Regions from separate parts of the Homo sapiens genome. Here region 2 is linked to region 1. The links come from fine-mapping of genetic effects on gene expression. A gene starts in region 1. The other region holds a variant in brackets. All regions are shown on one strand. Distances are from middle to middle.

Evidence for each region. PIP is the estimated chance that this variant, and not a neighbour inherited with it, causes the effect. A credible set is the group of variants that fine-mapping cannot tell apart.
Region 2: its variant is the best candidate, but not a certain one, in a credible set for the expression of TRAM1 in whole blood (INTERVAL, PIP 0.52).

The regions. Positions count from the first base shown.
Region 1 is chr8:70,607,203-70,610,117 of GRCh38, forward strand. It overlaps TRAM1 (translocation associated membrane protein 1), which reads right to left and starts at 1,214. Exons shown (of 11, transcript NM_014294.6): 1 at 875-1,214. The coding sequence starts at 997. LACTB2-AS1 (LACTB2 antisense RNA 1) reads left to right here and starts at 1,375. Exons shown (of 4, transcript NR_038881.1): 1 at 1,375-1,631. RefSeq lists silencers at 261-710, 731-910, 961-1,020, 1,081-1,130, 1,211-1,380.
Region 2 is chr8:70,643,547-70,646,461 of GRCh38, forward strand. LACTB2 (lactamase beta 2) reads right to left here. Exons shown (of 7, transcript NM_016027.3): 4 at 519-697. All of the region lies in intron 1 of LACTB2-AS1 (LACTB2 antisense RNA 1), which reads left to right. Among named protein-coding and RNA genes, the nearest start is that of LACTB2, 24 kb to the right of the region's middle. The variant A/T (reference allele first, on the strand shown) is at 1,506.

The sequences.
Region 1 (2,915 bases):
ATCATCCACATTCAACAGCTGTTAAATAAGTCATCAAAATACTAGATACGTGGGAAGAGAATTTACACACTCCTGACATTCCCATCCTCTCCTACTTCAAGAAACAAAATTACTCGATTCCTTGGCACCGCTGTTCAGAACCTCGATTTATCCATCAGACCTTGTTTCTTTAAAGCGTCAGGGCAAAAAGTTCGTTAACTGGTAATAATATCAGTTTAAAAGACAAAAATGAAAACAATCTGGCGCGCCTCCACTGCGCCGGTGCCCGGCGGCCACCGCCCTTCAAGTCGAAAGCAGATGCCTGACTCCGGTTTCTCGCTCACCCCAATCTCGGAGCTACCGGGGGCTCCCCTGTCACTCGGGGCCTGTGGTCTCCAGGCCGGCACTCCTCAGACCCGGGGGCCGGGCCTCGGCCTTCCCCGGCCCTCGCGGGGCTGACGCTCACCGCGGCCGAGGCTGGCAGTCCCCCCAAGTCCGCCCACCCGCCCCGAGCCAGCTCGGCAGCGCAGGGGCCGCCCCCGCCCGCAGGCCCCTCGCCGGCTGCCACGTAACCCTTCGCGGGAACCAGGAACTGCGCCGCGCAGCCTGCGGGAGGGGGCGGCGGCGGGTCAGGAAGGGGGCGACGCGGCGGTCCCCACCCCCTGCGGGCCGCGATGAGGCCCACCGGGACTTTGCATCTCCGGGCCGGCCGCCGGGGAGCTGCCGCCGACGTGGGGCAGGGCAGGGAAGGCCTGCACCTCAGGGACTGGGGGTCTGCACCCACCCCGGGCCCGAGCCCCCCGCGTCCTGGGCGGAGAAGCCGGGGCTGGCATCTGGAGCCCGGGCCCGGGCTGGAGGTGGCGGGGCAGGCGGTTGGGACTCGGGGCGGGCTCACCTCAAACATGAGCCCCAGCAGGAAGACCATCGCCACACAGGAGACGATGTCCGCGTGATTCTGCAGGACGAATTCGTGGCTCAGCACTGGGGGGCTCTTGGTGCTTTTCTTGCGAATCGCCATGGTGGGGCCGCCGCCCGCGCCTGCAGGTGCTCCGCCCCGGTTCTGCTCTTCCCAGCTGCTCACCGACTCGCCGCCGCCTCCCGCTGGCTGCTCCTCACGGCCCCGCTGCAGCCGCTCGCTGGGGCTTCACTTCCCATCCCACAGCCAGTACGCAGCCGCCGGGCCGCCCGGGGGAAAAAAAAAAACACAACAGCTAGCCCGCAGCGGGGGCGAGCATGCGCACCAGGGAGACGACGCTCCCTGGTGCCGCGGCCGCCTCCGCGAGCCCACAGCGCCACCTGGGGACCGGAGGCCGCTGGCCCGCGGCCGGGCGAGCGTGCAGGAATGTGAGCGGCGCTTCCCTGCTTCGCGCCGGGCCCGGGTTTGGGAGTCGTTTGAGGCGCGAGCTTCCTGCGCCTGCTCAGCAGCCTGAGGCCGCGGCCGGGTGCCCTCCTGCCCTCCTGGCCATCCAGGGATTGGGTGTCAGTGGCCTGTTGCACATTGTCACTTCTACAAGTGACTAACACCGTCAGGATAATCTAAAACTACGAATACTACCTGACTCCACAAGGGTACGGTGTATTCTCCAGTTTTAGCATCTGCCTTAAAAATTACCTCAGAGTTAAGCACTGCTGGGGACTTATTTCTACTCTTGGTAAGTTTGGACTAACTTAAAAAAAAAAAAAGAGCTGACCCTATTCTGGTCTGCCTCTCCGTCCCCACCCCCATCCCCGTCCCCATCCCCACCCCTATCCCCCACTGGCCTCAGACTGAAGACGAAGGGATCAGTTTGGGTTTACTGGCTTCACATATATTCAAATTAACAACATGTTTTAGTAATCTAAGGGAAATAGTAAAAGAGTTAAAAAGGATCGTGGATTAAGACACGTCCTCCTCTTATCGTTTTGCCCAAACCTGGAGTCCTTTGTATTCTTTTTCCTGAAGAATTGCTCTCCTGTTTACCCATAAGCCAAATGTAGAAACCAAAGTCATGCTAGATTGAGCCCTTTCAGCGCCCTTCCACATCCAGTCATCACCAATTCGAGGCAGACCTATCACCCCGCTTCCCCACTACCGCAGTCCGAGGGTACTTGCCTCTTGCCTACAATATTACAACTCTGGTGTAACCACTTAGTGGTTTAAGAATGTGGGTTGTTAAATCAGAATTCTGCCACTTATTACTTGTACGATCAAGGACAAGTTACTTAATCTCTATGGGACCCGATTTCCTCATTTTTAAAAATGTATTCATTTATGTACTTACTGAGGGTTGACTGTGTCCTGGGCACTGGGGATACAGAACTGAAATACAAATTAAATTATTCCTAGGGACTTATCATTCTAGTGTGGGAGAGAATCTTTAAACAAGATTTCAAAAGCGAAACAGATGTTAAATTGAGTTGAGCAACCAGGAGAAAAATAAAGCAAGGGGAATAGGAAAGTGCGAGGCACTTATACTTGCCTGAAGACCTGCAGGAGGTGAGGGAGCAAGCCCTGTGGATATCATCTATAAAGTGGGGATAACTATTGCTCATTTTAGTGATTAAATGAGATGATTGAAGGAAACTGCTTAGCGGGGAGTAAGGGCTTTATAAATTTAGTCAGGGATTATTCTTTTCCTCCTTCTGGGCAATCACTAGTTTCATTTCCCTTCAGATCACCTTTCAACGTTTATACTAGAATGATGCTTCTACTGGCAGAAAGTTTTTCAGCGGGTTCCCTTTCCCTTCATGGAAAGCTAGCATGATGAAATAGCCCTTTCTGATTTGGTCCTTGCCTACCCCAACAGACTGGAGCCCTGCATCTACAGGCCATAATCTCTGTACCAGCATTATTGACTACACACACTATACAGTTGCCTCTCCATATCTGTGGGTGCCGCATACACTGTGGATTCAACCAACCTGGAGTAAAAGATATTCAAGAAAAAAACTGCATT
Region 2 (2,915 bases), 36 kb after region 1:
TTCTGTCACCCAGGCTGGCATGCAGTGGTGCAATCTCTGCTGACTGCAACTTCCACCTCCCAGGTTCAAGCGATTCTCCTGTCTCAGCCTCCCAAGTAGCTGGGATTACAAGTGTGCGCCACCACACTCAGCTAATTTTTTTATTTTTAGTAGAGATGGGGTTTCACCATGTTGGCCAGGCTGGTCTTGAACTCCTGACCTCATGATCTGCCCACCTTGGCATCCCAAAGTGCTGGGATTACAGGTGTGAGCCACTGAGCCTGGCCTTATATGTTATCTCTTCAAGGCCAAATACATACAGAGACAAGCCAAAATGAACCTTCCTCATCATTTGACACAAATGGTTTGCTAGGTTTGAAAAACTACCCACTTTGGCATGCCTGTATACCCAGCGCTTTGGGAGGTTGAGGTGGGAGGACTGCTTGAGGTCAGGAGTTTGAGAACAGCCTGGAAAACATAGCAAGACCTTGTCTCTATTTAAAAACATAAAAATATAAAAAAATTTAAAAATTACCCACCTGGATATATAATATCAGCTTTGATTTTCAATAACTCTTTTAAAGAGTTCATATAATCATAGAGGTCTTCAAATACCGTTGTTCCTTCCCCTAGGATGCAATCTCCAGAAAAGATAGCATTTTCCTCTTCTAAGAGTAGAGCCATGTGATCATCAGTGTGGCCAGGGGTATATAGAACTCTGGTTGAAAGAAGAAATAAGGAATAATAACAATTATGAACTCGAGCTTAGAAGAAATTTTGAGAAGTAAATTATTCTGTATCCTTATCTTTAGACACAAATAAACAGATGAGTTAAAAAGCTGCTTTTTCTTTTCTTGAACCCACTGAAAATTATCATTAGAAAATTCTCTCCTTTAACTAAACCAAGATTCTCACTCTGAAGTAAAATTTAATACTTTTCCCACCCTTTTTCTTTTCTTTTTTTGAGACAGGGTCTCACTCTGTTGCCCAGGCTGCAGTGCAGAGGCAGGATCACAGGTCACTGCAGGCTCAATCTTCTGGGCCCAAGTGACCCTCCCACCTCAGCCTCCTGAGTAGCTGGAACCACAGGTGTGGGCCACCAAGCCTGGCTAATTTATTTTTATTTTTATTTTTTGTAGAGACAGGATCTCACAATATTGACCAGGCTGGTCTTGAACTCTTAGACTCAAGCAATCCTACCACCTCGGCCTCCCAAAGTGCTGGGATTACAGGCATTAGCCACCTCATCTGGCCTCCTACCATTTTTCTTACTTTATAAATAATAAGCACTGATTATAACAAATTTGGAAAATAGAAAAGTAAAGTGTTTAAAAGAAATGAACATCAACAATCATTTCTATTCCTCAGAGGGAGAGCTTTTATTATTACAGAATATATACTTTTTGATTTTCTATGCATATTTATATATTTTAAAAACAAAACTGATATTGTTTTAATACCTGATTTTTGAAATCTTAACTTACTATATTGTATTTTCCTACATCATTATATGTTTACATCATTTT[A/T]TATATATATATACACACACACACACATATACACATATATACATATATGTTTATTTATTTTTGAGATATATCAAGGTCTTGTTATGTTTTCCAAGCTGTTCTCACCCAGGCTGAAGCGTGGTGGCATGTTCCTGGCTCACTGCAGCCTCAACCTCCTGGGCTCAAGCAATTCTCCAACTTCAGCCTCCCGACTAGTTGGGAGCACAGGTATGTGCCACCACGCTTGGCTAATTTATTTTTATTTTTTTGTAAAGACAAGGTCTCTTTATGTTGCCTAGGCTGGCATCAGTATATACTTTTCAAAGACAAGTATTTAAGTGCTTAGCATAGCAGATGGCACAAAATTGCATGCTTAATAAATGGTAAATTTATTTTAGTAGTTATTATCTAAAAGCTTAAAAGAAACTTTCTTAACATGCAGAAGGTGGTCAGAAAAAGACTCTTTTTTTTTTTTAAATTATACTTTAAGTTTTAGGGTACATGTGCACAACGTGCAGGTTAGTTACGTATGTATACATGCGCCATGTTGGTGTGCTGCACCCAGTAACTCGTCATTTAACATTAGGTATATCTCCAAATGCTATCCCTCCCCCTCCCCCCACCCCACAATAGGCCCCGGTGTGTGATGTTCCCCTTCCTGTGTCCATGTGTTCTCACTGTTCAATTCCCACCTATGAGTGAGAACATGTGGTGTTTGGTGTTTTGTCCTTGCGATAGTTTGCTGAGAATGATGGTTTCCAGCTTCATCCATGTCCCTACAAAGGACATGAACTCATCATTTTTTATGGCTGCATAGTATTCCATGGTGTATATGTGCCACATTTTCTTAATCCAGTCTATCATTGTTGGACGTTTGGGTTGGTTCCACGTCTTTGCTATTGTGAATAGTGCCGTGATAAACATACATGTGCATGTGTCTTTATAGCAGCATGATTTATAATCCTTTGAGTATATACCCAGTAATGGGACTGCTGGGTCAAATGGTATTTCTAGTTCTAGATCCCTGAGGAATCGCCACACTGACTTCCACAATGGTTGAACTAGTTTACAGTCCCAGCAACAGTGTAAAAGTGTTCCTATTTCTCCACATCCTCTCCAGCACCTGTTGTTTCCTGACTTTTTAATGATCGCCATTCTAACTGGTGTGAGATGGTATCTCATTGTGGTTAAGAGCTTCTGCACAGCAAAAGAAACTACCATCAGAGTGAACAGGCAACCTACAGAATGGGAGAAAATTTTTGCAATCTACTCATCTGACAAAGGGCTAATATCCAGAATCTACAATGAACTCCAACAAATTTACAAGAAAAAAACAACCCCATCAAAAGTGGGCAAAGGATATGAACAGACACTCTCAAAAGAAGACATTTATGCAGCCAAAAGACACAAGAAAAAATGCTCATCATCACT